4 linked regions of the Homo sapiens genome follow. The protein of the gene in region 2 interacts with the protein of the main gene of each other region in a pairwise test. Each region holds a gene or a part of one and is shown on either strand. Other genes may lie near its edges. The genes, in order: BAG3, EYA2, IQUB and DTX2.

Region 1 (7,704 bases), on a different chromosome or scaffold from region 2:
TTCTTTTTTTAAAACCGTGACAGCCTAGTAGTTTCTGCCCAGACCAATGTATTTTTTTAGGATTAGCCAAGATGCTCTAAATGGTTAACTCCAGAACAATTTTGCTTCAGGATAGCTGTGCTGTAGCCTAACATTCAGCAATGACACAGCGCCTCTGTGCTAACCTCTGGCTGCACAGGTTTTCCTGTGACTATAAACTACAGCCATATAGATATATAGATTTTTGTGGGGGACAGGGTCTCACTCTGTTGCCCAGGCTGGAGTGCAGCGGGGCTATCACAGCTCAATGCAGCCTCAACCTTCTGGCCTCAAGTGATCCTCTCACCTTAGCTTCATGATTAGTTGCAACTACAGGCACATACCATCATGCCTGGCTAATTTTTCTATTTTTTTGTAGAGACAGGGTTTCACCATGCTGCCCAGGCTGGTCTTGAATTTCTAAGCTCAAGCAATCTGCCCACCTCGGCCTCCCAAAGTGCTAGGATTATAGGTGTGAGCCACCACGCCTAGTAAGCCATATATTTTTTAATGAGCTATGCTCAAAGCAAAAATATCTTGACGCTTTTTGTTTTTGTTTTTGTTTTTGAGACGGAGCCTCGCTCTGTCACCCAGGCTGGAGTGTGCAGTGGTGTGATCTCAGTTCACTGCAACCTCTGCCTCCCAAGTTCAAGCAATCCTCCCACCCCAGCCTCCCGAGTAGCTGGGATTACAGGCGCCCACCAACATGCCTGGTTAACTTTTTTTTTTGTATTTTTAGTAGAGATGGGGTTTCACCATGTTGGCCAGGCTAGTCTTGAACTCCTGACCTTAAGTGATACCCCCGCCTCGGCCTCCCAAAGTGCTAGGATTACAGGATTACAGGCGTGAGCCACTGCGCTTGGCCTTATCTTGGCTCTTATTCATGTAAGTGAATATCTAACACTTCTTTTAAAATCTCACCCTAATTTCATCAACTGGGAAATAACTGGACTATATTATTTCTAAACTATTCCCAGCTTAAAACACTCAATTCCACTATAACGTTCAGTTTGGTGAAATCCTGGAAAGCCTCCCAAAAGGGAACTTTGAATCAGCTCTAAAAGGGAGGTCACCACAAACACGGTTAATGGTAAGAACAGGATGAAATATCATTTCACTGATGATGAGAAACACATGGGAATGATGTGGAGAAAATATCCCTCTCTCTACAAATGGGACCCTCCTAGGATTGCTGAACCCAAGTATGGATCGATGTAGCTGTCTACACTCCAGCAACCTCCTTTTCCATCAAATCTCTTTCGCCAATGCAGACATTCGCAACTTTGGCCCTTACCACTCACAACCCAACCACGCACCCCTCCTAGGTTCTAACAGCAATGGCTGTGTAAGAAGTGACTTTAGAAACACTTTAGAGAGGGTGTTCCACAGCCTGTGTTCTTCAAAACCGTCAAGGCCGTGAAAGCAAAGAAAGGCTGAGGGAAGACTGAAGAGAAGTTGCATCTAAATGCGGTGCTCATGATCCTTGTTTCAGTCCTGGAAGACATCCTGGAAGTGGGGGCAAACTGCTATAAAAAAGATTCAAAAATGTACTGGATAATAATGTTGTAAGAATGTGAAATTTCCTGAATCTGGTAAGTCTACCATGGTTATGAACGAGAATGTCTTCCTCTTAGGAAAATATTTGCTATTCAGGGGAAAAGGGACATGATGTCTGCAATTAATTTTCAAACAGTTAAAACACATCAATAATATACGAGAGAAGAAATGACAAGGCGAATGCAGACATATTGACAAACAGTGAACTGGATGAAGTATATGTGGGGCTCTGTATGATTCACACAACTCTTCTATGAGATTGAAATTATTTCCAAATAAAACAACATTTTAAGATGAGGGTGCTCTATTCCAGGGCCCTGGCCAGTGTGACCATTTGTAATGAAAGAATATCCCACATTTGTTCACGGGGGGCTTTCCTTTTTAAAAACTGTAGCATTCAGCTGCTCAAGTTGCAGCCACAGGGGGCCCAGGGCTGCTGACTGTCCTGCTGCTAAGCTGTGAGCTGCTTAAACTAAATGACATCCTCTTCCAGGAACCTGCACCTTGTGTCTCCACTGGAAGATAACCAGACCCCTGCCTACAACCTTCCCCAGGCCAGCACGGCTTCCAATCCGCCATAGCTGGCTGATGCCTCAGCCAGACCACATGGTACCTGATTACAAAGGGAGGAGGGGGGTTAAGACATGGGCCCTGTGGTCAGGCTCAGCCCTAAGCTGAAGAGATAAAATGAACACTTCTGAAATGCCCCGAATAATGACATGTTGAACTCATACAAGTTGGGAGTTCTCATTAAGGGACTCATATGAGGCATCATGAGATGAGAAGGATGAGTAGGCTTCATGGAGGAGACAAGACTGGCTCGTCCCTCAGAGGACAGGGAGAACCTATACTGTGCGGGCATTTCAGGGAGCGGGTTCAGCATGGGCAAAGGCACAGGGGTGGGAATGAGCAGAATGGGCCTGCAGAGTGGAGTGGGTAACTGAGTGGAAGGTGACACACTGCCTACACCCAAGGTGAGGCTGTGGCTGCGGTGTGGATGGGGGTGTGAAGAGCCCTGAAAGGGTGTGGTGGACACTAAGGAAGCTGGTCCCAGGTATGTAAGTTCTGCCAAGCTGTTTCGTCTGCTCTAAGTCAGCCGCAATGCACAATGATCAGCCCAGCAAAAGCTGCAGAGTGCGGAGGGTTCACAGCCTGAGCAACTGTCCTGCATTTCTGTTAATACCTAGCAATTTCTCGAATCTCACTTGCCTGTAGGTACACGCATGTTAAATAGGCAGGGATGAAGGGGGAACCCAGGGCACCCACAGAGCTCCTGCACCCCTGGAGACATACCACCATAACCAGTCTGCTGACGACTAACTTCCCGTACCTGAGGCCTGTCGACCACGGTGTGCACACGGATGGGCGAGGGGGAGTGGAGTGGCGTGCTGCTCCTGGCTGGTGAGCCCTCCCGGCTCGATGCACCCTGGACAGATGACCTGAACGGGGATGCCGCCCGCAGGGGCCGGGGCTCCCAGTCATCCCCCTGGATCTTGTGGTACACAGGCTGGTGGGTCTGGTACTCCCCCTGCTGCGCTGGGTAGTGCGTCTTCTGGGCTTGGTGGAAGGAGGGCTGGGCTGCTGGCCGGGTAACGTTCTGCTCGTGTATCACCGGAATGGAGATGTACCCCCGCGGGAGCTGGTGACTGCCCAGGCTGCTCCTGCCGGAGGAAGGCAGGCTGGCCGAGGAGGATGAGGATGAGCAGTCAGAGGCAGCTGGAGACTGGGACCGCTGCAAGAGACACAGGGTAGAGGGCATGACCCCACAAATGACTCCCCTGGCTTGGCATCCTGACCACGCCTTCTGCTGTGCACCTCCTCAGGGCAATCCATATTGTAAGACCTCCTATCTGTAATTTTCAATTTTCAAAATGTGCGGTTAAGACTGAGAGCTCTGGGGCTGGGCGCGGTGGCTCACACCTGTAATCCCAGCACTTTGGGAGGCCTAGGTGAGTGGACCACCTGAGGTCAGGAGTTCAAGAGCAGCCTGGCCAACATGGTGAAACCCCATCTCTACCAAAAATACAAAAATTAGCTGGGTGTGGCGGCGCATGCCTGTAGTGCCAGCTACTCAGGAGGCTGAGGCAGGGGAATTGCTTGAACCTAGGAGGCAGAGGTTGCAGTGATTTGAGATCACACCACTGCACTCCAGTCTGGGCAACAGAGAGAGACTCCACCTCAAACAAAGCAAAACAAAACAAAACAAAACAAAACACACACACACACAACAAAGACTGAAGGCTTTGGAATCAAGGGGCCTATGTTCAAATTCCTAGTAATTCAATCATTTTCTAAGCTTCATTTGAAATATAGGAAGAGTGCCCCTCCCTCACTGGGCTGCTCTGAAGATGAGGTCAGTCACCTGGGCATGTGCCTCAGCCCCAGGCCAGCACACAGGAAGCGCTCATACAAGGGATGTGTTGTCCCCACTACCCTTTCTCTGCCAATCTACAGAGAACTCGGCTGAGCAACTGGGAGCTGCCAGCATCCCGTGTGGCCCAAGGCAGGTCAAGCACCTTTCCCTGCTGGGCCACCTTCTATTCACCTCGAAATTGAGAGCATTTCCTCTTCTAAGTGCTTTGTTAGCCTAAATTTGTGAAGATGTCTCGCATTTATGTGTCACTTTGATTTCTTGCAGCAAAACCATTATAAATATAGGCATTACTTATTTTTTTATTTTTGAGACAGTCTCGCTCTATCACCTAGGCTGGAGTGCAGTGGTGCGATCTCGGCTCACTGCAACCTCTGCCTCCTGGGTTTAAGCAATTCTCCTGCCTCAGCCTCCTGAGTAGCTGGGATTACAGGAATGTGCCACCATGCCCGGCTAATTTTTGTATTTTTTGTAGAGACGGGGTTTCACCGTGTTAGCCAGGCTGGTCTTGAATTCCTGGCCTCAAGTGATCCACCTGCCTCAGCCAGGTACTACCTCTCTAAGAAAAGAAAAAAGGTATCCCACATTAACTGTAACTTTCACTCTCAAGCAGGTGTGAAGCTGAACAGATTCAGACGGAGCTGAGAGGCAAGCATGACTCAGGGTGCAGATAGGACACGGGAGTTTGTGCCCAGGAACAACGCTGGCACACACCACAGGATGATGTGCAGACAGGAAAATGAGAGGACTTACTGCTTAGGAATCCTACTAGGAATGCCTCAAATCTCAGCTAAGAACCAGATTAAGAACTATTTTTTAGCTATTAATGCACAGAATCCATTGACATATCCCTGAGATGTTTGGCTTCAGGATTAAAATGCTGTCTTAAAGCAGCTGCCTTCCTGACTCCTTATTTCTTTTGAAACTGTGGTGCACGGTGAGGGCAGGCATGGGGTCTCATTTTCCTGTCAACATAGCTCCACAAGCGGTTAAGATTTATCCATAAGCATTGAACTGAACAAAATAATGCACAGCTATCTCTGTGCTTCTGAATAGAAAGCCCAGTGTGAATAAGGAGCATGGAAATTAGGCGCCAGAAGGCAGGCCAGGCTTCCGGTCCCAGCTCTGCTCCCTCCACCTGTGTGCATCTGGAGCAGGCAGGCTGCAGTGTGCCCTTCCGAGCCGTTCCTTAGCTACAAAAAGAAGCCACATGATTCCTGCCCTGCCCCACTGAAGAACAGCCCTATGAGATGCTGGGGGATGATGTGGGGCCATCACCCTGTCTTTGCTGGGTGACCTCTGATGCTGCAGGCTAGACCCAGATGCCCTGCATGTGAACAGGTGCCTGGCCCAGGGCACTGTCCTGAGGGGATGGGCCCGGCCTGGGAAGCACAGCGGCTTGCTCCCCAGCAGGCTGGTGAGCCTGGCCTCTCCTTACCTCAGGTCCGTGGGAGGCTGGGGGCTGGGCTGCCGCCGCCGCTGCCACCTGTCCACACTGTTTATCTGGCTGAGTGGTTTCTGGCATGCCCCGCAGAGGTGACTGGGACCTCTGAGGAGCCGCTGCTGCCGCCTCAGTTCGGAATCGCTGCATCCCAGGCTGGGGATAGACATGGAAAGGGTGCACCTGCCGGTTCTCAGCGCCTTCATGGAGCACAGGAATGGGAATGTAGCCTGGTCGGAGCTGGGGGTACACAGGGTGGCCTTCCCTAGCAGGCGGCAGCCTAGAGCCCTCCCGGGAAGGGCCATTGGCAGAGGATGGAGTCTCCTGAAATAAAAAGTGGAGAAACACAGGCTGGTTAGAAACTGGGAAGTGAACCCTCCTGGCAGAGGAAACACTGTGGCGCTTGGCATTGTGATCTTCCCGAGTGACTTGGGCCTCAAAGCGTCAGCCAGCTCCCAGCCCCTGTACCCTCCAAACCCCCCACCCCATAGAGGTTGCTATTTGGCCAACAGTTTAGGAATTAGGGGCATCAGGAGAAAGCCAAAAGTATCTGTTAAGCAAAGGAAAGGTCCCAATTCTCCAAACTGGTAAGACAGGTTTCTTTTCTGGGTGACTGAGGGAAGCGGTGAGTGTAGGAGAGCTGCCCATGCCCGCATTTTCAGAGACCCGGATCAGAAGATGAGCTCCAGGAGCAGGGGTCAGCTCCAACCTCTACATTACAGCAAGCGTCTCTGTTTCCAAAAAGGCCCTCACATTTCCCAGCAATATAGAGCTTGTACTGGGCCCAAACACAGGACACAGTTTGGGAATCTTTACAGAGAAGTGGGCTGGGGAGCGAGGGCTGCCTCCTCAGGAGTATTGTTAGAACAATTTGCAGGAAGGGGAAGGACAGGGATGCAGAGGCAGCATAGGGAGAGAGGGGCACCCAGGGTTAACTGTGTCGCCTAACGATGCCAACTGACAAAGATTCTCTGCTTGACCAAATCTTAGGCTTCCGAAGCATCTCCTAGGCCCATCTGTGCACTTCCTTGTAAAGTCAAGTTTTAGCAAAAGACACTGCTAAGTCAGTTTAGCCAGAAACCCCCTCCCCAGCCTCACTATCTGATCAGCTTCCACAGCCTCCAGGTGCTGTCTAATCACCCTGGCCTGTCTTCGGCAAGAATCCTGTTTGGTCAGCATAGCCAGAAACACCCTTAGCCCTGATGTTTCCTCTTCTAATTTTCCATCCACACTGCTCCTTGACTATAAATTCCCAATCGCCCGTGTTGTATTTGAAGTTGTGCCCAGTCTCTACCCATGACTGCACGACCCCACTGCCGTGGTCCCTGTGCCTATCTTGATGGCCCCGAATAAATCTTCCTGACTGTGCTTTAACAAGTATCACTGAAGAACTTTTTCTTCAACGCAACAGAGCCTGCTTGGGCAAGGAGCAGTTGGGGTCCTTCTCTTATGTCCTCTCTTGAAGTTCTCCCTTCAGTGGCCTGGCTATTTTGGGACCCTTGAGAAGGCCAAGTTCCAGATGTACCACAGGAAAGATCTTATTTCAGACAACAAGGCTGGCCAGTCACTCACTGGGCAATGCCATCTCTCAGCAAGCTGGGCTGCGCAACAGAAGTCCTAACAGTCCCCGAGCACCGAGGGTCCTTTCCCAGGAGGGGAGCTACTGATAAGTGTCATTTGCATATATCTGTGTAAGGCAACTCTTAAGAAGGGGAGTGATCTTTCCTGACGAAGGCAGCTGTCTGCACGGCGAACAAACGCCAAAGGCTAACAATCTATGAGCTTGCAGGGGACAATCTCTACTGCTGCGGAATCAATCAAAAGTAAGGACAGATACTGAGGGCTGCTCTGCACTTTGAGAGAACAGACCATTAATTCTGTGATGTTTCTATTTGTGTGCAGGCGTGGGCACCAGGTGGCTGACCCTGGTTTAGCCCTTTCAGGCCCATCAACTGCCTCCCTCCTGCTGAGACCCTGCCCTTGGAGGGCCTCCAGCACACAGGAAAGGCATGGGTGTCACTGTGTCCTTGGGGACATGGGCAGACAGGCATTCTCAGATTAGAACAGCCACGTGCTCAGGGCGGCGGCATTACATTAGCCTGCTTAACTCTCAGGTCACCCAAGAGCAGGAGCAGGTCCAGGCCTCACATTCAGAGCTGAATTCCTGCCGTGAGATGGCCCTGACAGGGAGCCAGCAAGAGGCGCTGAAGAAACCCTCTGCTACTCAGTGTTGAGTCATAACGTGCCTGTGGGCATTCTGTCCACTCACTGAGGTCCTCCTCCTTCCAGCCGAAATCGGAGCCTGCATTAGTCCTGC
Region 2 (7,614 bases):
TTTTTCCATACTGAACTTCTATACATACTAGATTTTAAACAAAGGAAAGTTTGAAAGCCACTGATGTAACTGATCACATTTCTGTCCTTGCAGTGGCTGCCTGGAAGCTCAGCATCTAATTCTCAGTTCTCCACTGACAAGTGTCCAGGACCTTCTAGCTCACATTTTGTGTGCAAACCTTACCTTGACTTTCTTTTGTTTTCTTTCCTGTTTCCCTGTTGTCTGCTTTTCTTGTTTTCTTTATTCTGCTGCCATATATATGGTTTTATATGTTGCCTCAAATCCTTTTTGGAAAGAGCCAAGGTTTAAGTGAATGTATTTTAAAAAATTGAATGCTTTTTCTGTAGAGGTGACCTTTGCAGGTGGGAAAGGAATATGTTTAGAAAAAAGGCATGATTTGTAGAATTCACATGTGTGTTTGTAGGATATGTATATACATATCCTACAATGAATATACATACATTGGATATATTGTGAGGTTCATAGTTTTCAAAATTAATGTGTTTTTCTGGCTTTAGAGGGCATTTACTTGGAAGACTGGAGTGGGGGAAATGTGTTTTACTCCAAGGTAGGCATGACTGTGGACTACACCACAAAGAATCTGCTGTATGGCTTAGCACTTTCAAATTTTGTTTGGGATCATTTTGCTGGTTGTTATCAAATGAGGACAAATACTTAACAAAGAGATAGCAAGGGAAGAAAGAGACAGAAAGGGGGTGCTTCTACATAGGAAGGTGGCTGAATTTTCAGGGTCTTGAATTAGCATTGGGGGCTTAAGTCCTATCAGCTTCTGCTCATCTGCTGTGACTCTGTGGTCAAGGTCTCACTCTCCCAAAGATAGGGATTCTCTTCCTCTGCTGTATATTGGAATCACCTAGGGAGCTTTAAAAAAGGATGATGCCGGCCAAGCACAGTGGCTCACGCCTGTAATCCTAGCACTTTGGGAGGCCAAGATGGGTGGGTCACCTGAGGTCAGGAGTTCAAGAGCAGCCTGGCCAACATGAAGAAACCTTGTCTCCACTAAAAATACAAAACTTAGCTGGGCGTGGTGGCACATGCCTGTAATCCCAGCTACTTGGGAGGCTGAGGCAGGAGAATTGCTTGAATCCAGGAGGTGAAGGTTGCAGTGAGCCAAGATCACACCATTGCACTCCAGCCTGGGCGACAGAGTAAGGCTCCTTCTCAAAAAAAAAAAAAAAAAAAAAAAGGCAGATGCCACAGTTCCACCCCAGAGTCTGGTTTAATTGGTCTAGGATGGGGACTCAGCATGGAGATTTTTAAAAGCTCTCCCTGGAGATTCTGTGCACCCAGAGTTGAGAATCACAGCGCTAAGAGAAGGAAAAATAAAATTAATAAGCACCTGCCTCCTGCTTATCTCTCAGGGTCGTTGGGGTGTGTCTGTAATTTATGAAATAATGGGCCAGATTCTGGGGAAGGAATAAAATGGTATGAAGGAAATAGATTAACCCTTTGCATTCTATAGGGTACCTTTGGTTAACAAGTGTTCAAGATTTTTCCCCATGAGCCACAGGAAGAAACATTTCACATCCTGACCAAAGATATAGATATAGATATGGATATAGATATAGATACAGATACATGTGTGTATATATATATGTATGTATGTATACGTATATATGATATACGTATACATATATACATATATATCTCTCCATTGTAAATTGAAAATATCCTAAGTTCAAAATGCATTTAATACGCCTAACCTACTGAACATCATAGCTCAGCCTAACCTACCTTAAATGCACTCAGAACACTTGCATTACCTCGCAGTTGGGCAAAATCATCTAATACAAAGCCTATTTTATAATACAGTTTTGAATATCTCATGAAATTTATCAAATATTTTGCTGAAAGTGAAAAATAGAATGGTTGTATGGGTATCTCAATTGTGGTTTCTACTGAATACACATCACTTTCACATCGTCATAAAGTCAAAAAAATCATTAAGTGAAACCATCATAAATTGGGGACCATATGTATACATTTAACTATATATAGGGGATCATATGTATATATGTAACTATATATGTATAGGTATGTATATATATTCTTACTGCATACAATTCACTTGATATTTCCTATTCCAGTCTATTCCTTTAGGAAAAAAAAATTAAGGTTCACAGGCCAAGACAAATTAAACACCTCTGAAGGTCATTAAGATGCTCAATTTATAATGACTTGGAGCACTTAGCAAAGATACTATGGGAAGTGAAGCTGTGTGTACAGTAATAATATTTGTTGAGCAATTGCTAGTGCCAGCTGCAGTCATAGTAGAAAGTGTTTTATGAGCATGAGCTCCATGAATTTTCACAATAATAGTATAAGATGAGTACTGTTATTTTCACTTTAGTGATGAGAAAATCAAGGCCAAGTACATATGTACATTCTGCCTCTAGAAGACAGAAGCAGAGCCATCTCCAAGCCTACTGCGGCAGGCCCAGAGAAGAGAACAACCATGTTTACTGAATACATTTGCTTCTGTCTGAAGTTTGGGGAGTAGAAAGCGGAGTAAGCTATGACCAGAGGTGGGTCTGGGAATGGTGAGGCCTGATACATGTATAATTTGCAGCCCCTATTCAAGAAAAAGAGTACAAAATTATGAGTCCAAGATTAGATAAGAAAATGATTATTTCTTTAAATTAAGAAAAGAAATCACAACAAATTCAAATTTTAAGAAGCTGAAAATTACCACAAACATCACAAAATTCCCAACTCAACTTTCCTCCAAAATGCCAGCAGCCACCTGACACCACCCTACTCAAGGGCAAGTTGGGGGTGGGGAATCGGAGTGGAAAGACAGCGGTGTCTACGGCCTGCAGCCAAATGTCCAAAGCAAAGGACTTTTGTAAACTTTACATCAACAAGCCACCATCTGAACACTTTTCTAAGTCCCCTTAGAAAGGGGTCCAAGCAAGTCAGGGGCCCAAGAACTTAACCTTCATCAGCTCCTGTAAACTTACAACTGGAATTGAAGACTGTTACGGCTCAAGAGCAACGGCTTTGGAGTCAGCCAGGCCTGAATTTCATTCCTGGCTCAGCCACTTTCTGCCTTCTTTGAGCTTGGACCTGCTCATTTGTGAAATGAGTGTGCTGACAGCAGCTACCTTGGGGTCTCTCTTGGGGATTACATGAGATAAGGAAGAGTTGGGCATTGGATGAGCTTAAGGTTGCAAATAAAAATATAGGACCCCCGGTTACATTGGAATTTCGGAGACAAAAGAAATACTTTTTAAATATAAGTACGTACAACCAATCGCATAAGACATATACTGCAACTGATTCCTCGTTTCTCTGAAATTCAAATTCACCTGGGTGCCCTGTCTTTTACTGCACTTAAGAAATGACAGTGGTTGATATTGCTTTTGGATTGAAGCATCCTGGGTGTCCCACGGTGGAATTCATAGACATTAGAGAGTGGGTGACGGGCTAGGAAAGGCTGCATAGACTCCAATTAACACAGTTCATTGCCAGGGAGACTAAAAGGGGGGTGGCTATGAGAGGATGGAGTAAGTGGGGTGCCTTGATTTGGGCATGTAGGTGGAGGGGGCTATACCTCTCACTTTCACTAAACCAGTTAAGCTCTTGAGACCTCAGTTTCCTTAGCTGTAAAATGGGTGAAACATAGGGGAGACCCCTGAACCGTTCTCACCTAAATACCACACCAATGGCACTTCCTCATAATTCAGATGTCACCTCCTCAGAGAGGTCTTCCCTGACTGCTCTAGCTAAAATTACCGCCTCTCCTCCACTCCCCAACAGCAGATACATATATTATTTTTCTCCCTGTAACTCTAACTTTCTGAAACTGTCTTGCTTCTTTACTTGGTTATTTGTTTATGGTTTGCCTCTCCATGTGAATGCAAGTTCCGGGAGGGCAGAAAACTAGTCTGTCTTGTTCTAGCTGAGTCTCTCAGGAGTGGTACCTGGCACAGTAGATGCTCAATATATTTTGAATGAATGAATGGGTGGTTGAGTGAACGAATGTTAGTGTCACTATTGAGGTCCTCTCCGAGCCGTCGTTCCTTTCACAGGGGTCATGCCTGGGTTGCAGGGAGGATGTGCTGCCCCGGGGAGGGAGGAGGTGCGGGGTGTCGGTGGGTGGGGAGGAGGCTGGGCCCTGGCCTCCAGGACCGGCGAGAGTGAGCGCGCTCTGCTCGGCTGCAGGCTCAGGAAGCGGCGCGGCGGCACGTGCTGGGCCAGAGCCCCGCGCCCTGCGTCCAGCCGCCGGGTGTGTGCGCCCGCGTAGCCCAGCGTCGCGCCTCGGCGCCCCCACGCGCCCACGCAGCGGCGCGGGGACCCGGGCGGGGGCAGAGGGAGGGCCCGGCCCAGGGAGGAGAAGGGGCCGGTCCTCCCGGCGCAGGCAGCAGCCGCGGCAGCCCAGGAGGCGGAGGCAGCGGCAACGGCAGAGACAGCAACGTGCCCGCCGCAGTCAGCCCGGCCTCGTCGGACCCGCACCGGCCCGCCCGCCCGCCCGCACCGCGTCGGGGCGCCCTCTCCACTGCGCGCGGTGAGTACCGCCAGCGGCGCCCACCCCAGGCCGCCCGCCGGGATTCGCCGGGCGGGGGGAGTTGTTCACCGGGACCCCCTCGCCCTGCGCCTCTTTCTGGCACTCGCCAAGCGGGGCCTCCGCAGCTGTCGGGACGTTCTGGGGCGCACGGGCCTCCCAGGGCCAGGAAGGCACAAGGGCAGAGGGGACAGCAGCAGAGCCCCCCTCTGGAAAGGCTCTCCCAGGCTCGGGGCCCCAGTTTCCCCATGCGCTTTGGGGCAACGACCCTGAAGTTTGCTCTCCCGCGCGCGGGACAAGTGCATGGCGCGCAGGCGGTGTAGACGCGGCTGGGTCCTTGGCGTTTTGTTCGATTATGGTCCCGGCGGTTCGCGATAAGGGGCGCTCCCCCAGTCCGCAAACTCAAGCCCTCAGGTAGTGTTTATGGGATAACCAAGAAGCAGAGCCAACCGCTGGAATCCCGGCTTGGGGCTGGAACGGCCCGCTGAGACTTTGCCTTCTAGCTATTGATATATTTCTTTTCAAAAGTCCGTTTGCGCTCGGCCCGCTCTGGTTCAGGTCTGGGGCTTTGAACCGGGGCAGGGAATCCTGGCGCCTGCTGCGGGTAGAGTTGAAACTTAGAAAAGTTTACATCCGAAGGGTGTTTAGAAGGCGGCAAGGATTTCGTTGTAATGGGAGAAAGTGGGAAATGGAATTGTTTTTTAGTCATGAAGTCTGGAGGTTAAACGGCCGTGCTGGCCCAGGCTCCTTCAATATATTCCTGCCTGCCTCCCCCCCAGCAATAAATAGTTTATAAGCTCAAGGAATACTAGGAAAGCGTGACTGGTGAACGTACTCCTATCGCAAAAGACTCAGTGCGCTTTTCTCAGCTGTTGAACTGGAAGCGCCTTTTGCAGTGCGAGGTTCCTGCTTCCCCGAAGCCGAGGCTGAGAGTTGACAGCGTGCACCCTGCCGCGGTCTGAATTCTTTTTAAAAAGCAAGACCGATGCTGCGTTTTTATGGATACCCTTTTCTTTTCTTTCCCCTTCCCCGAAATGCTATGTAATCTTCAATTACTTTTTAAAATATAACGTGGAGGTATAAATCACCCCGGTAAGAGGTACCTTTTAATTACGAGGTGCAGTGGAAGAGCTGAACATTGGAATCTAGCTGTTAGCGAGGGCGGAGGGGCAGGAGGATGATTTACAAACATCATGTAAGAATTTGAGCACTGAATTATGTTTGAGTTAGGGAGATCCCTTACAAAGGAAATTATAACCAGTGGACAATTGTATTTCAAACCGAATCTATTAATTTCATGAGCCGTTTCTTGATTGAGTGAAATGTCTGTGACCATAATAGATACAGAACTAGTAAGCACCTTACCAGACTATGACCCATTTGTTAGCAACTAACATACACATGTAACCATCCTGCTTACAAAAAAAAAAAGAGGTACACAAAGAAAGAGTGGGAGGAGAGAACCTCTTTTTCAAAATAATCTTTGTGAAAGAATCTTTCACAATTTTACTCGATAAATAAATGTTCATTTTTTCCACTTGTCTTTCTTCATCACCTTAAGCCCCTTCATCCTTTACATATCTTTGCATTTAGACACTCTCACACTTGGGTAAGTTCTTCTATAATTTATATAACAAATAACAAATGATAGTGGTTTGAATCTTGCTTTTGACTAAGCATTAAATTGTGTTTGTATTAAAAAAAATCTCCTTGCCTTCGTAGCAAACTCTTAACTTTTGCCATTGTGAAAAGACCAATGTGGTTAGATGCAAAAGAGCCTGAACTTTTTTTTACTTTAAAGCAGTTTATATGTCCCCATTCTCTTGTAACTTCAGCTTCACAATATCATTCACTATTTTATCTGAAAGGAATTGGCATTTTTCTTTTCTGTCTTAAAATAGCTCACCTGGTGTTGTGACCATGTGTATGAGAATACTCTATAAACACACAAATCACTTCCCCAATATCAGAAAAACTAAAGGAAATATAAAATAAAATAAAAAGATGTGTATCTCAATACTTTAGGATTTTTTTAAAAAGTTTTCATCACGTAAGTTTTAGAATCTTCTTTTCATGTCTTTTGTTTTGCATTAAACACATCATAAAGAGGTATGATTTGTTGACTTGTTATAGGATTACCATTTGGCAAAAACGCCCAAGACACGCTGTTTCAAATATGTGGTATTACTTCTGCTTTAAATTGCGTGTAAGAGATTGCAAACCTTGTTCCAGATGGATAAATTGATAAAATGCTAGCTGCTGTTGGGAGAATGGAAAAGCCCTCAGCAAAAAGGCTCTGTGGTGTAGCTAAGTACATTTTGAATTAGGGTGAGCAAGCTATGGAGACCCCAGCCGTTTGTGAAAAAATATACACAGTCCAAGCACGTCCACTTTAAGACGTTGTTGGATCCTCCGTGACAAGATGACTCCTTTCCCACAAAGAAGAAACCGTTTCCTTATTTTTTCAGTTACTTTTCCAAAGACAACTTGCATCGGGCGCAAGAGAGCAGAGTTATGCAGAAATCCAACCGTAACCAGCTCAGAGCGAGGACTCATTCTCTCTCCTTCCACCAGATGTTTTTTAGGTGTCCTCAGCTGGAATGCCCAGTTTGAAACTAATTAGGCCAGCAGTAAACTCCTTGTATAATAAAATCGCAGGCCGTAATGGTGAATAAGTGAGGTTCCCAGCCGCTTATGACAGATGCCTTTCTGGGCAGAGAGAGAAGAGAGCCTGTGGCTGTCAGGAGAAAATGAAGGGAGTGGAGGTGCCTTCTTTAGACACATGCCTTTCCTAAGTATCCACGCACATGATCGCAGAGCGGAGGAGTGGAAGTTGCGACTGGGGTAGAGTTTTGTCTTTGCTGGGCAGGCCTCCTTCATACAAAGATGCTTGGGGGAGAATCAATTATAAGTATTAGGCAGTGTCTTCAGGTCTTAGGTGTATGCTGTGTGTGTGTGTGCAAAGGCTTGGGGAGAAGGATTGGTGTCACGTGCGGGGCAGTGTAAAAAACTTAACTGCTTCCCACCTGGGCACAAAATGAAAAGAAAGACTGCCTGGCCTGACATAAATTCCTTGGGAGAGAGGAGAA
Region 3 (7,704 bases), on a different chromosome or scaffold from region 2:
GCGGCATTATTTCTGAGGGCTTTGTTCTGTTCCATTGATCTATATCTCTGTTTTGGTACCAGTACCATGCTGTTTTGGTTACTGTAGCCTTGTAGTATAGTTTGAAGTCAGGTAGTGTGATGCCTCCAGCTTTGTTCTTTTGGCTTAGGATTGACTTGGTGATGTGGGCTCTTTTTTGGTTCCATATGAACTTTAAAGTAGTTTTTTCCAATTCTGTGAAGAAAGTCATTGGTAGCTTGATGGGGATGGCATTGAATCTGTAAATTACCTTGGGCAGTATGGCCATTTTCACGATATTGATTCTTCCTACCCATGAGCATGGAATGTTCTTCCATTTGTTTGTATCCTCTTTTATTTCCTTGAGCAGTGGTTTGTAGTTTTCCTTGAAGAGGTCCTTCATATCCCTTGTAAGTTGGATTCCTAGGTATTTTATTCTCTTTGAAGCAATTGTGAATGGGAGTTCACTCATGATTTGGCTCTCTGTCTGTTGTTGGTGTATAAGAATGCTTGTGATTTTTGTACATTGATTTTGTATCCTGAGACTTTGCTGAAATTGCTTATCAGCTTAAGGAGAGTTTGGGCTGAGACAATGGGGTTTTCTAGATATACAATCATGTCGTCTGCAAACAGGGACAATTTGACTTCCTCTTTTCCTAATTGAATAGCCTTTATTTCCTTCTCCTGCCTAATTGCCCTGGCCAGAACTTCCAACACTATGTTGAATAGGAGTGGTGAGAGAGGGCATCCCTGTCTTGTGCCAGTTTTCAAAGGGAATGCTTCCAGTTTTGGCCCATTCAGTATGATATTGGCTGTGGGTTTGTCATAGATAGCTCTTATTATTTTCAGATACGTCCCATCAATACCTAATTTATTGAGAGTTTTTAGCATGAAGTGTTGTTGAATTTTGTCAAAGGCCTTTTCTGCATCTATTGAGATAATCATGTGGTTTTTGTCTTTGGTTCTGTTTATATGCTGGATTACATTTATTGATTTGCGTATATTGAACCAGGCTTGTATCCCAGGGATGAAGCCCACTTGATCATGTTGGATAAGCTTTTTCATGTGCTGCTGGATTCGGTTTGCCAGTATTTTATTGAAGATTTTTGCATCAATGTTCATCAAGGATATTGGTCTAAAATTCTCTTTTTTGGTTGTGTCTCTGCCCAGCTTTGGTATCAGGATGATGCTGGCCTCATAAAATGAGTTAGGGAGGATTCCCTCTTTTTCTATTGATCGGAATAGTTTCAGAAGGAATGGTACCATTTCCTCCTTGTACCTCTGGTAGAATTCGGCTGTGAATCCATCTGGTCCTGGACTCTTTTTGGTTGGTAAGCTATTGATTATTGCCACAATTTCAGCTCCTGTTATTGGTCTATTCAGAGGTTCAACTTCTTCCTGGTTTAGTCTTGGGAGAGTGTATGTGTCCAGGAATTTATCCATTTCTTCTAGATTTTCTAGTTTATTTGCGTAGAGGTGTTTGTAGTATTCTCTGATGGTAGTTTGTATTTCTGTGGGATAGGTGGTGATATCCCCTTTATCATTTTTTATTGCGTCTATTTGATTCTTCTCTCTTTTTTTCTTTATTCGTCTTGCTAGCGGTCTATCAATTTTGTTCATCCTTTCAAAAAACCAGCTCCTGGATTCATTAATTTTTTGAAGGGTTTTTTGTGTCTCTGTTTCCTTCATTTCTGCTCTGATTTTAGTTATTTCTTGCCTTCTGCTAGCTTTTGAAAGTGTTTGCTCTTGCTTTTCTAGTTCTTTTAATTGTGATGTTAGGATGTCAATTTTGGATCTTTCCTGCTTTCTCTTGTGGGCATTTAGTGCTATAAATTTCCCTCTACACACTGCTTTGAATGCATCCCAGAGATGCTGGTATGTTGTGTCTTTGTTCTCGTTGGTTTCAAAGAACATCTTTATTTCTGCCTTCATTTTGTTATGTACCCAGTAGTCATTCAGGAGCATGTTGTTCAGTTTCCATGTAGTTAAGCGGTTTTGAGTGAGATTCTTAATCCTGAGTTCTAGTTTGATTGCACTGTGGTCTGAGAGATAGTTTGTTATAATTTCTGTTCTTTTACATTTGCTGAGGAGAGCTTTACTTCCAAGTATGTGGTCAATTTTGGAATAGGTGTGGTGTGGTGCTGAAAAAAATGTATATTCTGTTGATTTGGGGTGTAGAGTTCTGTAGATGTCTATTAAGTCCACTTGGTGCAGAGCTGAGTTCAATTCCTGGGTATCTTTGTTGACTTTCTGTCTCGTTGATCTGTCTAATGTTGACAGTGGAGTGTTAAAGTCTCCCATTATTAATGTGTGGGAGTCTAAGTCTCTTTGTAGGTCACTCAGGACTTGCTTTATGAATCTGGGTGCTCCTGTATTGGGTGCATATATATTTAGGTTAGCTCTTCTTGTTGAATTGATCCCTTTACCATTAAGTAATGGCCTTCTTTGTATCTTTTGATCTTTGTTGGTTTAAGGTCTGTTTTATCAGAGACTAGGATTGCAACCCCTGCCTTTTTTTGTTTTCCATTTGCTTGGTAGATCTTCCTCCATCCTTTTATTTTGAGCCTATGTGTGTCTCTGCACGTGAGATGGGTTTCCTGAATACAGCACACTGATGGGTCTTGACTCTTTATCCAATTTGCCAGTCTGTGTCTTTTAATTGGAGCATTTAGTCCATTTACATTTAAAGTTAATATTGTTATGTGTGAATTTGATCCTGTCATTATGATGTTAGCTGGTTATTTTGCTCATTAGTTGATGCAGTTTCTTCCTAGTCTCGATGGTCTTTACATTTTGGCGTGATTTTGCAGCGGCTGGTACCAGTTGTTCCTTTCCACGTTTAGCGCTTCTTCAGGCGCTCTTTTAGGGCAGGCCTGGTGGTGACAAAATCTCTCAGCATTTGCTTGTCTGTAAAGTATTTTATTTCTCCTTCACTTATGAAGCTTAGTTTGGCTGGATATGAAATTCTGGGTTGAAAATTCTTTTCTTTAAGAATGTTGAATATTGGCCTCCACTTTCTTCTGGCTTGTAGCCTTCATTTCATTCATTTCATCTTCCATCGCTGATACCCTTCCTTCCAGTTGATCACATCGGCTCCTGAGGCTTCTGCATTCTTCACGTAGTTCTCGAGCCTTGGTTTTCAGCTCCATCAGCTCCTTTAAGCACTTTTCTTTATTGGTTATTGTAGTTATACATTCTTCCAAATTTTTTTCAAAGTTTTCAACTTCTTTGCCTTTGGTTTGAATTTCCTCCTGTAGCTCGGAGTAATTTGATCGTCTGAAGCCTTCTTCTCTCAGCTCGTCAAAGTCATTCTCCATCCAGCTTTGTTCTGTTGCTGGTGAGGAACTGCGTTCCTCTGGAGGAGGAGAGGCACTCTGCTTTTTAGAGTTTCCAGTTTTTCTGCTCTGTTTTTTCCCCATCTTTGTGGTTTTATCTACTTTTGGTCTTTGATGATGGTGATGTACAGATGGGTTTTTGGTGTGGATGTCCTTTCTGTTTGTTAGTTTTCCTTCAAACAGACAGGACCCTCGGCTGCAGGTCTGTTGGAGCACCCGGCCGTGTGAGGTGTCAGTCTGCCCCTGCTGGGGGGTGCCTCCCAGTTAGGCTGCTCGGGGGTCAGGGGCCAGGGACCCACTTGAGGAGGCAGTCTGCCCGTTCTCAGATCTCCAGCTGCGTGCTGGGAGAACCACTGCTCTCTTCAAAGCTGTCAGACAGGGACATTTAAGTCTGCAGAGTTTACTGCTGTCTTTTTGTTTGTCTGTGCCCTGCCCCCAGAGGTGGAGCCTACAGAGGCAGGCAGGCCTCCTTGAGCTGTGGTGGGCTCCACCCAGTTGGAGCTTCCCAGCTGCTTTGTTTACCTAAGCAAGCCTGAGCAATGGCGGGCGCCCCTCCCCCAGCCTCGCTGCCGCCTTGCAGTTTGATCTCAGACTGCTGTGCTAGCAATTAGCGAGACTCCGTGGGCGTAGGACCCTCCGAGCCGGGTGGGGGATATAATCTCCTGGTCCGCCGTTTTTTAAGCCTGTCGGAAAAGCGCAGTATTCGGGTGGGAGTGACCCGATTTTCCAGGTGCCGTCTGTCACCACTTTCTTTGACTAGGAAAGGGAACTCCCTGACCCCTTGCGCTTCCCAAGTGAGGCAATGCCTCGCCCTGCTTCGGCTCGCGCACGGTGCACGCACCCACTGACCTGCGCCCACTGTCTGGCACTCCCTAGTGAGATGAACCCTGTACCTCAGATGGAAATGCAGAAATCACCCGTCTTCTGCGTCGCTCACGCTGGGAGCTGTTGACCAGAGCTATTCCTATTTGGACATCTTGACTCCTCCCCGAAAAAAATACTTTTAAAATAAAGCATAATATTAGCAAATACTTATACCAAATTATTTAATTCTCACAGATGATATCATTATGCCCATTTTACAGATAAAGAAATTAGCACAGAGAGGTTAAGCAATATTTTCAAGAACCCAGAGCTAGTAGGCAGTATATCTGGGATCCAAATCCAGGCAGTCTGGATCCAGAACCCATGCCCTTAACCACTTAACTGTGCTGTATCTCAGTGTAGGAGTCCATGGGGGATTGGGAGGAGAACAGAAAAGGGGTCCTGGTGATGAAGAAAAAGTCTAGAAACTGATCTCCCTGCAGATGAAAAAGCTAAGACCCAGGAATGCCTCATGGTAGGTTAGTGGTAGTCAGATCCAGAATTTAACTAACAATTTTGCCATCAGATATATTATCAGAGAATGTCTTTTATTCTTAAGTGACAAACATGACTATGATTTAAAATAGAGTAAAAAATATTCAGCAGATTTTTTTTCACCCATCTAGAACAAGGAGCTAATTTTATTGGTTCCTAATACCCCCTCATATGTACATATTAATATGCTCTACTTGCATACATATGTGTAAACTCTCACTGCAGCAAATATTAAATGTAAATAACAAAGTACACATATTAAAAGTGTGAAATGTAAAATGTGATCTTCCAACCCAGTTTGGAAAGCTACAGTTGGAAAAGACTTTTCAAAATCATTTTTTCATTATTGTTATCATTCATTTTGTTGTTGTTTTTAAGAGAGTAATATGTGCTTACTAGAAAAAAAACTAACAGAATAGAAGGGGATAAAATAAGAAGTAAAAGTATTTCAGACATGCTAATTTTATTTCTCATTGTTAGGCAGTTTATCTTTCCAGGAATTGTCTATAAAGCTACAATTATATAATATATATACATTTAAATTTGTTTATGATCATATCAATGTCTTTCATAAACTATATTTCTGTTTATTTTTAAACTTTAATACTATTTTATGACTTTTTATAATACGTGCTTAACATTTATTTTTATGTAAAATACGATTCTGCCGCATTCTTTTCAACAACTTCACAGTAACTTCTTTGCAAGGCTAAGCCACATGGTAGTCAACTGTTGTTCATTGATGGACATTTAAGCTGTCTCTAGTGTTTTTTTTTTGTTTTAATAGGATAATTTATTTTTTAAGAATCAGTTTTTAAAGTTATGTTAAAGATCGAACTTTTAAATGCATGCAATTATATATAAACAATAATCTATATTAATTTTTAAATTTTCTGCTGGATGCAGTGGCTCATGCCTGTAATCCCAGCGCTTTGGGAGTCTAAAGTGGGCGGATCTTGAGGTCAGGAGTTGGGAGGCCAGCCTGGCCAACATAGTGAAACCCTGTCTCTACTTAAAAAAAAAAAAAAAAAAAAAAAAAAACAGGCTAGGTGCGGTGGCTCATGCCTGTAATCCCAGCACTTTGGGAGGCTGAGCAGACGGATCACAAGGTCAGGAGATCAAGACCATCCTGGCCAACATGATAAAACCCTGTGTCTACCAAAAATACAAAAATTAGCTGGGCGTGGTGGCATGTGCCTGTAATCCCAGCTACTCGGGAGGCTGAGGCAGGAGAATTGCTTGAACCAGGGAGTTGGAGGTTGCAGTGAGCCAAGATTGCACCACTGCACTCCAGCCTGGCGACAGAGCCAGACTCCATCTCAAAAAGAAAACAAAACAAAATACAAAAATCAGCTGGGAGTGGTGGCAGGAGCCTGCAATCGCAGCTATTGGGGAGGCTGAAACACGGATCACTTGAACCTGGAAGGCAGAGGTTGCAATGAGATGAGATCATGCCACTGCATTCCAGCCTGGGCAACAGAGCAAGACTCCATCTCAACCGGTACAGTGGCTCACGCCTGATCGAGACCATCCCGGCCAACATGGTGAAACCCCGTCTCTACTAAAATACAAAAAATTAGCCGGGCATGGTGGCAGGCACCTGTAGTCCCAGCTACTCGGGAAGCTGAGGCAGGAGAATCGCTTCAACCTGGAAGGCGGAGGTTGCAGTGAGCTGAGATAGCGCCACTGCACTCCAGCCTGGCGACAGAGGGAGACTCTGAAAAAAAACAAAAAACCAAAAACAAAACAACAACAAACAACAACAACAACACCAAAAAACCCTCCAACTCAAAAAATAAAAAAATTTAAAAAAGCACTTTTTAATTTTCAGGGAAAAAAAATCTAAGGCTGGTGTTCACAATGTCAATTTTATTTATGGTTTGTTCTCACTATAAGCTTCCCTGTAATCCATTTCTACCCATTTTTTACTCTGCACAAACTTTTTACCTTTTTGCTCTTTGATTTTTTTTTTTTTTTTTTTTTGAGATGGAGTTTCACTCTTTTTGCCCAGGCTGGAGTGAAGTGGCGCGATCTTGGCTTACTGCAAACTCCACCTCCCAGATTCAAGCAATTCTCCTGCCTCAGCCTCCCCAGTAGCTCAGATTATAGGCACCCCCCACCATGCCTGGCCAATTTTTGTATTTTTAGCAGAGACGGGGTTTCACCATGTTGGCCAGGCTGGTCTCAAACTCCTGACCTCAGGTGCTCCGCCCGCCTCGGCCACCCAAAATGCTGGGATTAGGCTGCTCTTTGAGAGCTTTACAAATTTATTTAATCCTTACAATGACTCTGAGGTAGATCTTCTTGTCTCTGTAGATAGGAAAACTGGAACTGTCAAGAAACTTGCTTAAGATCACAGAGTGCATTAGGTTCGGATCCATAATCAAATTGGAAAAAAAGAAAAACACAAAGAACAATTAAGACTCCAAAGCCCTAATGCATAGTCTTTGTATCCTATCACACTGTGGCATTATATATATAAAACAAAAAACTTTATAATAAAGAGAAATGTATTTTCCAAACTGTGGTTCTCCAGATAACAATGTGTCTCCGTGAGGACCATATAGTAAATACATCCCATAAAAAATGATTACCAACCAAAAGCTTGCAATTAATGTTCCAACTAAAGAAAAAGACTCAAAGTAAAAGCATCAGCTATCCTAGGTACTGCTTGGAGGCAACACCAAACACGACACATAAATCATTGTTGAAAAAAACCGTAAAACATAATGCTGGGTATTTAGTTATGTTGAATGCTAAAACTAATCTTTCCTTAACTAAAGGTCTCCGTCAAATGAAAAGTGTATTTTAGTCAAGTCAGGATTTCTGTTTTGCAAACTCAAAGTCTTATATTATTAAGCATATATTCAGGTTATTTATTTTCCTGATCATAATTTTCAAATCAAATTAAGATCAAACTCCACTGACCGTCAGGTACTGTATATTCTCATTTTGATAAATTTCAAATTAATGATAAAAATGTATTAACCTGCTGGTCAATTATACATTTTAT
Region 4 (7,704 bases), on a different chromosome or scaffold from region 2:
AAATGGTTTAGGAAAGACCAACGAGGCCCAATACCAGGAGAAAGGAACAAATCCACATTAAATGACTTAACTCCAGAATCCCAGCTCTAGCACTATCTAGAAATTTGCCTCAAAATAATTCCTAAGAACTTAAGAAGCTCCAGGAAGCTGAGTGGAACAGGGCTGACAGAAGTCCCAGCACCTCTAAGAACCCTCCTGGGCCAGCAGATAGAGCACACTGTTCTCTGAAACAGGCTGACCCAGATACTCAGGGAGGGAAGTTGGGGGAGCATCTCCCTGAGCCTGGCTTGCCTATGTCTATGTCCTCAGAGAGCCCCGATGACACCTTCCTATACTCCCAACTCCCAGAAAGATCTCAGATGCACGTGCCCCAACTCCTGGCAGAAGATGCCCCGGAAAACTCTGACTCACCCAAGGCCCATCACCCTCCTGTCTACTGGCCTCCTCCTAGCTCATCCCTCAAGAGGCCTTTTGGGCCAGGTGTGGTGGCTCATGCCTATAATCTCAGCACTTTGGAAGGCTGGGGCAAGAGAATTGCTTGAGGCCAAGAATTCAAGACCAGCCTGGACAACATGGCAAGACCTTGCCTCTACGTAAAACTGAAAAATTAGCCGGGTGTGGTGGTGTATACCTGTGGTCCCAGCTACTCAGGAGGCTGAGGCAGGAGGATCACTTGAGCACAGGAGTTCAAGCCTGCAGTGAACCATGATTGCACCACTGTACGCTAGCCTGGGTGACAGAGCAAAACCTTGTCTTTAAAAATAGTAATAAAATAAAATTAAAATGTATTAAAAGAGCCCCCTGCCTTCCCGGGAATGTCAATAACTCCCCATGTGCCCCAGATAGCCCACTCTTGGGGTCTGGGCTGAATCCCAGCTCCGCTACTTGCTGGCTGTGTCGCCAACCTCATGGGCCTGAATGTGCTCTCCTGTAAGCGAAGAACACTGCTCAGCCTGAGAGCATCGTGGGATGAGTGAAGTCACTCAAGCAGCCTGCTCAGGAGGGCCTGGCACATGACACGAACCAATGAGCGGGAGGCGCTGTCACTGTGTCTTACACAAGCTGGCAGGGTCCTCGGAAACCCAGTCTGAACAAATACTAGAGGTCCAAGAAGCTGCCAAGGCGGTCTCAACCACCCTGTGAAGTTTCAGCCCTTGACGTGGCTGCGGTGGGCAGGGGTGGGCCGGTGAGCAGGGAGGCAGCAGGATGCCGACCAGGGCCAGTGCGGAGAAAGGAGATGATTTCCTCCCTGGGACCAGGGTGGCCCCAGGCCCACCCACTCCCTCACCACCCGCACCAGGGCACTCTCAGAAAGCCCTGTCCCAGCTACCACTCTGAATTCTCAAAATGTGCTCCAAGCCCAACATTCTCAATAATGAATGACGAAGCCCCAAGTCACCCAGACAGTCAGAGGGCTACGGCCAGCCCATTCACCTTGGCCAAATCCAGGGAAATCCTGGGGGGGTTCCTCATTTTATCTTTTTTATTTTTTTCCCCCGAGATGGAGTTTCGCTCTTTGTTGCCCAGGCTGGAACGCAGTGGCACGATCTTGGCTCACTGCAACCTCCACCTCCTGGGTTCAAGGGATTCTTTTGCCTCAGCCTTCCAAGTAGCTGGGATTACAGGCGCTGGCCACCATGCCTGGCTAATTTTTGTATTTTTAGTAGAGATGGGGTTTCACCATGTTGGCCAGGCTGGTCTTGAACTCCTGACCTCAGGTGATCCGCCCACCTCGGCCTCCCAAAGTGCTGGAACTACAGGCGTGAGCCACTGGGCCCAGCTTTAAGACAGGGTCTCGCTCTGTCACCTAGGGGGCTGAAGTGCAGTGGTGCGATCACAGCTCACTGCTGCCTTGACCTCCTGGTCTCCAGCAATCCTCCTGCCTCAGTCTCCCAAGTAGCTGGGATTACAGGTGTGTACCACCATGCCTGGCTAATTAAAAAAATTTTTTTTGTGGAGATGGGGTCTCGCTATGTTGCTCAGGCTGGTCTCTGACTGCTGGGTTCAAATGATCTTCCTGCCTTGGCCTCCCAAAGTGCTGGGATTAAAGGTGTCAGCCTCTGTGCCTGACCAATCTCCTCATTTTAAATGCCACCCGCTCTGGTCTGCACTGGGCCCGTGGTATCATTCTCTCTCTCTCAAGGAGCTGAGCGCTCTACCAGGCACTCTGGGCTGGGCTGCATCATCACGGGGGCCAGGTCACCCATGCCACCTGCAGCCACTGCCACGTGCTCCACATTCTGCCCTCCCTCACACCGCGCTGACAGCCCCTTGCACTAGACTAGGGCTCAGGGGTAAGGGCTGATACTCTGGTCTCTGGGTCCTTAGGGCCTGGCACAAGGCGGGAGTCAGTGTACAGGCAGTGACCCAGTGTTCTCGGGCACAATGCTCGCCATGCAGCCCGCAAGCAGAGGCCACAGGCCTTTAACTCTGCTCCATGTGGAGGCCCTTAATCATCATGAGTGAAAGGACTGTAGATTCTAACCCGTGTGGTGACCGCCAGGACTCAGGTACAAGGGGTCAGGTAGGCTCTGGATGGCCACGGCACCTCGGCACCCACATGCCACATGCAAATGAGATGCCACGGCAGGACCACCTAGGGGGCAGGAGCCGCATCTGCAGGAATTGGGGTGAGTCTTCCCGGCTAAGAGCGGAAACACAGGGCAGACAAAACGAGCGGCCGTTGCCCACGATACCTGACTGCACCGGAGGTGGAGGATCCTGGGGGCAGGTGCTGCGGTCCCAGGTGGGAGAGGCTGGAGCGGTAGAGGGGCTGGCTCCCCAGGGAAGGAGGAGCTGCGCCCCAGGCGTTGGTGGTGTTCAGCCTGGGCGCAGACCGGGCCCCGGAGAGTGAGGGTTTGTTGTACGGTGCAAAGGCCTGGTGGGTCCCAAACACAGAAGCGGTCCTGTGTGGGGGGTGCTGGGGGACGGGGTATGCAGGGAGGTTGGTCATGGAGTGGCGGTAGCGGCCTGACACGGGGCCAGTTCTGCTGCCACTGAGGCACTGGTGGCAAGAGCAGGCGACGCCTGTGTGGCCCGGCGGAGCGATGATGGTGGTCACCGGGTAAGGCGGCCCTGCTTGGCGCCGCACGCTGCGGCAGAAGCTGGAAGTCTTGTTGGTCTGCGTGTGGGTGGTGTAGTTGACAGTGTAGTTGTACCCCAGGGGGGCCAAGTCCACGAGCTGGTTGCCCCTGGCCACCTGCTGCTCCAGATAGTCACAGACGCTGGCTTCATAGGCAGTCCAGGAGCCATCGTCGCTCAGCCACTCCCAGACGACACCTCGGCCAGGGGCTGAGTGCTGGGGGAACAGGTGTCTCCGCACAGCCCGCATGGTGCCTATTTTCAAAGGAAAACAAAAGGTTAGTCTGCTAGCATCCCCAAGATACAGGGAACGTTCAAATTCTTTTTTCAACCGCCAAAATAAACAAATAGGAACACAGTAGGTACACAGTCATGCTGCTATTTGTTTATTTATTTATTGTTAGAGGCAGGGTACCCCTTTGTCGCCCAGGCTGCAGTGCAGTGATGTGATCATAGTTCACTGCCACCCTGACCTCCTGGGCTCAAGCGATCCTCCTGCCTTAGCCTCCTAAATAACTGGGACTACAGGCACATGACACCACACCCAGCTAACTTCAAATCGACCTCTACAACACCTGCCACTTTCATTCCCCGATTAACACTTCCTGCTCTCTGCCACGATATGCAATTTCCATGTTATTATTTATCCTGTCTGCTATCTTTCTCAGTTGACTTCACACACTGTGAAGGCAACGACTTGGGAGCTGACTGACAGCCACAGTTTTCACAGACTCTACGACACTCCTGGAAACACATAGTTTCCAGGGCTGGGCATGACGGCTCGAGCCTGTAATCCCAACACTTTCGGAGGCCAAGGCAGGAGGATCACTTGAGCTCAGGAGTTGAAGACCAGCCTGGGCAACACAGGGCAATGGAGACCCAGTCTTTACAAAAAACAAACAAACAAACAAACACGAAAAAAAAAAACCCATACTTTTAAAAATAAAACTAAAATTAAAATTGAAAAAAAAAAGGAAAAACCAGTTTTTCAAGTTTCCTCACTGGTGACACTGTGGGCCAATAATTCCTTACTGCAGGGCCAGCCCAGTGCACTGCCGGATGGCGAGCAGCATCCCTGGCCTCCACCCACCAGATGCCAGGAGCACCCCCACCTCCCACCCACTCAGCTGTAACAACCAACAATGTCTCCAAACATTGTCAGATGGCCCCGGGGACAAAATCACCCCCAGTGACAACCACCAGATTAGAGTAAGGGATGGCTCCGAGAGGAAACTGGTGCCTCATTCTCAATAATACTGATCAAAACACACTGCAGGTCCAGGCGCGGTGGCTCATGCTTGTAATCCCAGCACTTTGGGAGGCCGAGGCAGGCAGATCACCTGAGGTCAGGAGCTCGACACCAGCCTGGCCAACGTGGCAAAACCCCGTCTCTACTAAAAATACAAAAATTAGCCAGGTGTGGTGGTGGATGCCTATAATCCCAGCTACTCGGGAGGCTGAGGCAGGAGAATCGCTTGAACCCAGGAGGCAGGGGTTGCAGTGAGCCGAGACTGCGCCACTGCACTCCAGTTTAGGCAACAGAGCCAGACTCCGTCTCAAAAAAAAAAAAAAAGATCAAAACACATCGCAGACCAAAAAGCAGAAACGCACACATGCAGAGGGGCGCAGTTGCCTGCCCAGGGCACACAGCCACTGAGTGGTGGGACAGGGCCCTCTGAACTCCTATGACGCACCACCTCCATGCCGGCCTGCCGGCCAAAGGAACCCTTCAACCTCTGTGGTCGGGACAGGCATTTCTGCTTTGCAAGACAAGGGGAAGGGCCTCCCACAGTGCCTCTCCCACTGTGAGCTGCACTCAACCTATGTGGATGTTCCCACTCACTGCACCCACCCACCACCACGTGTGCTGCAGGGAGAGAGCAGAAGCTCTGTAAGTCACGTCCATCACCCCAACACCTGGCGCAGAGCCTGTGGGAAAGCAGGTGCGGCACCCAGATATGTGCGAGAGGCAGACAGCGTCTTACCGGTGTCCTGGCGGAACTGGGTCCAGCTGGGGAGGTCAATAATGTAAGGGGCCAGCGAGGGGTCTGCCTGGCCCAAGGGGATGCTGTGGGCCAGGCTCCCAAGCCCAAAACGTTGGCCCTTCTGCTGGACAAACTGCTGCTCGATGAAGCTGCAGACGGTGGCACTGTAGGGGTGCCAGGTGCCCAGCCCGTCCTGCCATTCCCACACGGCCACAGCCGCGGGGCTGGTGTACACCTGCACCAGGGAAGGGCTTGGGGCCATGGCCATCTTCCCAAGGAGTCCCGCTGCTTTCCCAAACAGCTTCAGACCCCTCTGGCCTGGAGTCCCGGGGTCATTGCCCAGCGCCTCCGGCAGATCTGTGAACAGGACAGACATGAGCAGTTACCAATGCACATCAGTAGCCCTGCAGAATCAGCCTCAGCGCAGGGGAAACACGTGATGCTTTTCCACAGCTGATTTTTTTTTTTTTTTGGTTACAGGGTCTCACTCTCTCACCCAGGCTACAGTGCAGCAGTGTGATCTTGGCTCACAGCAGCCTCAAACTCCTGGTCTCAAGCAATCCTCACAACTCAGCCTCCAGAGCAGCTGGGACAATAGGCATTCACCACCACACCCAGCTCATTTTTTTACTTTTTGTAGAGATGATGTCTGTGTTGCCCAGGCTGGTCTCAAAGTCCCAGCCTCAAGGGATAGACTCGCCTCAGCCTTCCCAAGTGCTGGGATCACAGGTGTGAGCCACCGCGCCTGGTCTCACGCTTGCTTTTCTTCCCCTAACACCTTAAGGGCATCATGAATCAAGAACCTGATCCTGTCTCTTTGCTGTGGCAGCCAGGAAGAATTCAAAGTCAATCCCGCAGCCTACGTACCGCCGCACAGGCCCATGAAGAAAGAGAGCATAAATTCCGGGTGCTAGTCACCAGCCCAGCTTCTTTCTTGCTACTGATAATTCCCCTCTGACCCAACTGCTTAGTGTGTTTCATCATGCATGTATTTTTTTTTCTTTGAGATGGAGTTTCCCTCTTGTCACCCAGGCGTGTGATCTCGGCTCACTGCAACCTCCACCTCCCGGGTAGGTTCAAGTGATTCTCCTGCCTCAGCCTCCCGAGTAGCTAGGACTACAGGCATGCACCACTGCGCCCAGCTAATTTTTTGTATTTTTAGTAGAGACGGGGTTTCACCATGTTGGCCAGGCTGGTCTCAAACTCCTGACCTCAGGTGATCCACCCACCTCAGCCTCCCTATTAGCACCCACCATCCTGAAGATGAGATCCCAACATTTCTTGGAAAGGAGCAGGGTTTGGGACACCCAGGGAGCAGGGGCAGAGCTGGGAACTGCAGCACAGGTTCTAGCTCCTCATGTCTCCCAGGTGCCCTGAAGCATTGCTAACCAAAAAGGAAGCCCTAGATGGGCACCGAATCACCCCTCTCTGGCCTCTCCAAGGCTCTCTGCACCCACTCCCCGACCTGGCCCCTGCTGACCGGCCACCAGGCCCAGGGAGCTCTTCCCCACATCCCGAGCTCCACCTCCCGAGACCTTCTCCTTGCAGTCACTCCAGCCCACCCTCTTCCCTTGCGAACACTCCACGTCCTCCAGGCCCAGCTTGCATCGCTCAGGATGACCCATCACACGCCCTCTGCACCCTCCACAGCACCCACCAGAACCCTAGTAACCGCGTCCACGTGTGGCTGTGACCACAGTCCTTCTGCTCCTCCCCAGGTGGCAGCAACCCCAAGCCTGCTTCATTCACAGCTGCATCACCGGGACCCAGCAGGGGCATGCCACGTGGTGAGTGTTCTAGAATGTTCTACACACTGCTTCAGAATGACAGAGTGAATGTGGACAATGATTCCGCTCAGCACCTGGAGCTGTCTGAATAAGAAGAGGCCTGCAAATGCCCCACCTGATGGCTGCCCCCCAGGGCACCGGCTGTTGGAGTGCCGGTCCAGGGTCCAACATTTAGTAACCAACATCAAATGTACTTGTCTCTCCTAAGCTGCACAGACTGCCAAGGTGACATTTCTCCCACTTACGGACAGGAAACCAAGGCTGAAAGAGGTCAAGGGGACTGGGTGTGGTGGCTCACACCTGCAATGCCAGTGTTTAGGGAGGCTGCGACAGGAGGGTGGTTTGAGCACAGGAGTTTGAGGCCAGCCTGGGCAACATAGTGAGATCCCATCTCTGCAGAAAATTTAAAAGTTAGCCAGGTGCGGAGGTGCATGCCAATAGTCCCAGCTACTCAAGAGGCTGAGGCAGGAGGATGGCTTGAGCCCAGGAGTTAGAGGCTGCAGTGAGCTATAATCCCAAGGCACTCCAGCCTCGGTGACAAGAGGTCCCACCTCTACAAAAAAAAAAAAAAAAAAATCAGAGCTGATGCAGTGTGTGTGCACACTGATGCCAGAGCCCAGGCCTGCTTCTTTCCAGGTGCTGCTCCACATCTGTCTCCCTTCCAGGGAAGGTGGTCTTACCCTTCTCACTGAAACCTTGCTGGGGTAGTACAGTCTGGGACCACACCAGAAGCCAGGGTCCCCATCTTATCACAAGCCATGCGACTATGAGGACGTCACTGTAACTACCTGGGTCTCAGTTTCCTCATTGGCAAAATGGGGATAAAATATGATGTGTATGCTCGGGAATCA

Evidence for each region.
Region 1: the proteins of EYA2 (region 2) and BAG3 interact in binary tests that used the Homo sapiens proteins (3 or more experiments, as listed by UniProt).
Region 3: the proteins of EYA2 (region 2) and IQUB interact in binary tests that used the Homo sapiens proteins (3 or more experiments, as listed by UniProt).
Region 4: the proteins of EYA2 (region 2) and DTX2 interact in binary tests that used the Homo sapiens proteins (3 or more experiments, as listed by UniProt).

What each region holds. Positions count from the first base shown.
Region 1 is NC_000010.11:119,667,858-119,675,561, reverse strand, and holds part of BAG3 (BAG family molecular chaperone regulator 3), read right to left. Parts: intron 5,712-7,704; coding exon 5,385-5,711; intron 3,308-5,384; coding exon 2,906-3,307; intron 1-2,905. UniProt on the Homo sapiens protein: Co-chaperone and adapter protein that connects different classes of molecular chaperones including heat shock proteins 70 (HSP70s), e.g. HSPA1A/HSP70 or HSPA8/HSC70, and small heat shock proteins (sHSPs), e.g. HSPB8.
Region 2 is NC_000020.11:46,890,460-46,898,073, forward strand, and holds the start of EYA2 (protein phosphatase EYA2), read left to right. Parts: upstream 1-4,383; 5' UTR 4,384-4,528; intron 4,529-7,614. UniProt on the Homo sapiens protein: Functions both as protein phosphatase and as transcriptional coactivator for SIX1, and probably also for SIX2, SIX4 and SIX5.
Region 3 is NC_000007.14:123,524,020-123,531,723, forward strand, and holds part of IQUB (IQ motif and ubiquitin-like domain-containing protein), read right to left. Parts: intron 4,333-7,704; exon of another isoform or gene 4,226-4,332; intron 1-4,225. UniProt on the Homo sapiens protein: Adapter protein that anchors the radial spoke 1 (RS1) complex to the A microtubule of outer doublet microtubules in axonemes. The triple radial spokes (RS1, RS2 and RS3) are required to modulate beating of the sperm flagellum.
Region 4 is NC_000007.14:76,478,140-76,485,843, reverse strand, and holds part of DTX2 (probable E3 ubiquitin-protein ligase DTX2), read right to left. Parts: intron 5,424-7,704; 5' UTR 5,335-5,423; coding exon 5,067-5,334; intron 3,337-5,066; coding exon 2,697-3,336; intron 1-2,696. UniProt on the Homo sapiens protein: Regulator of Notch signaling, a signaling pathway involved in cell-cell communications that regulates a broad spectrum of cell-fate determinations.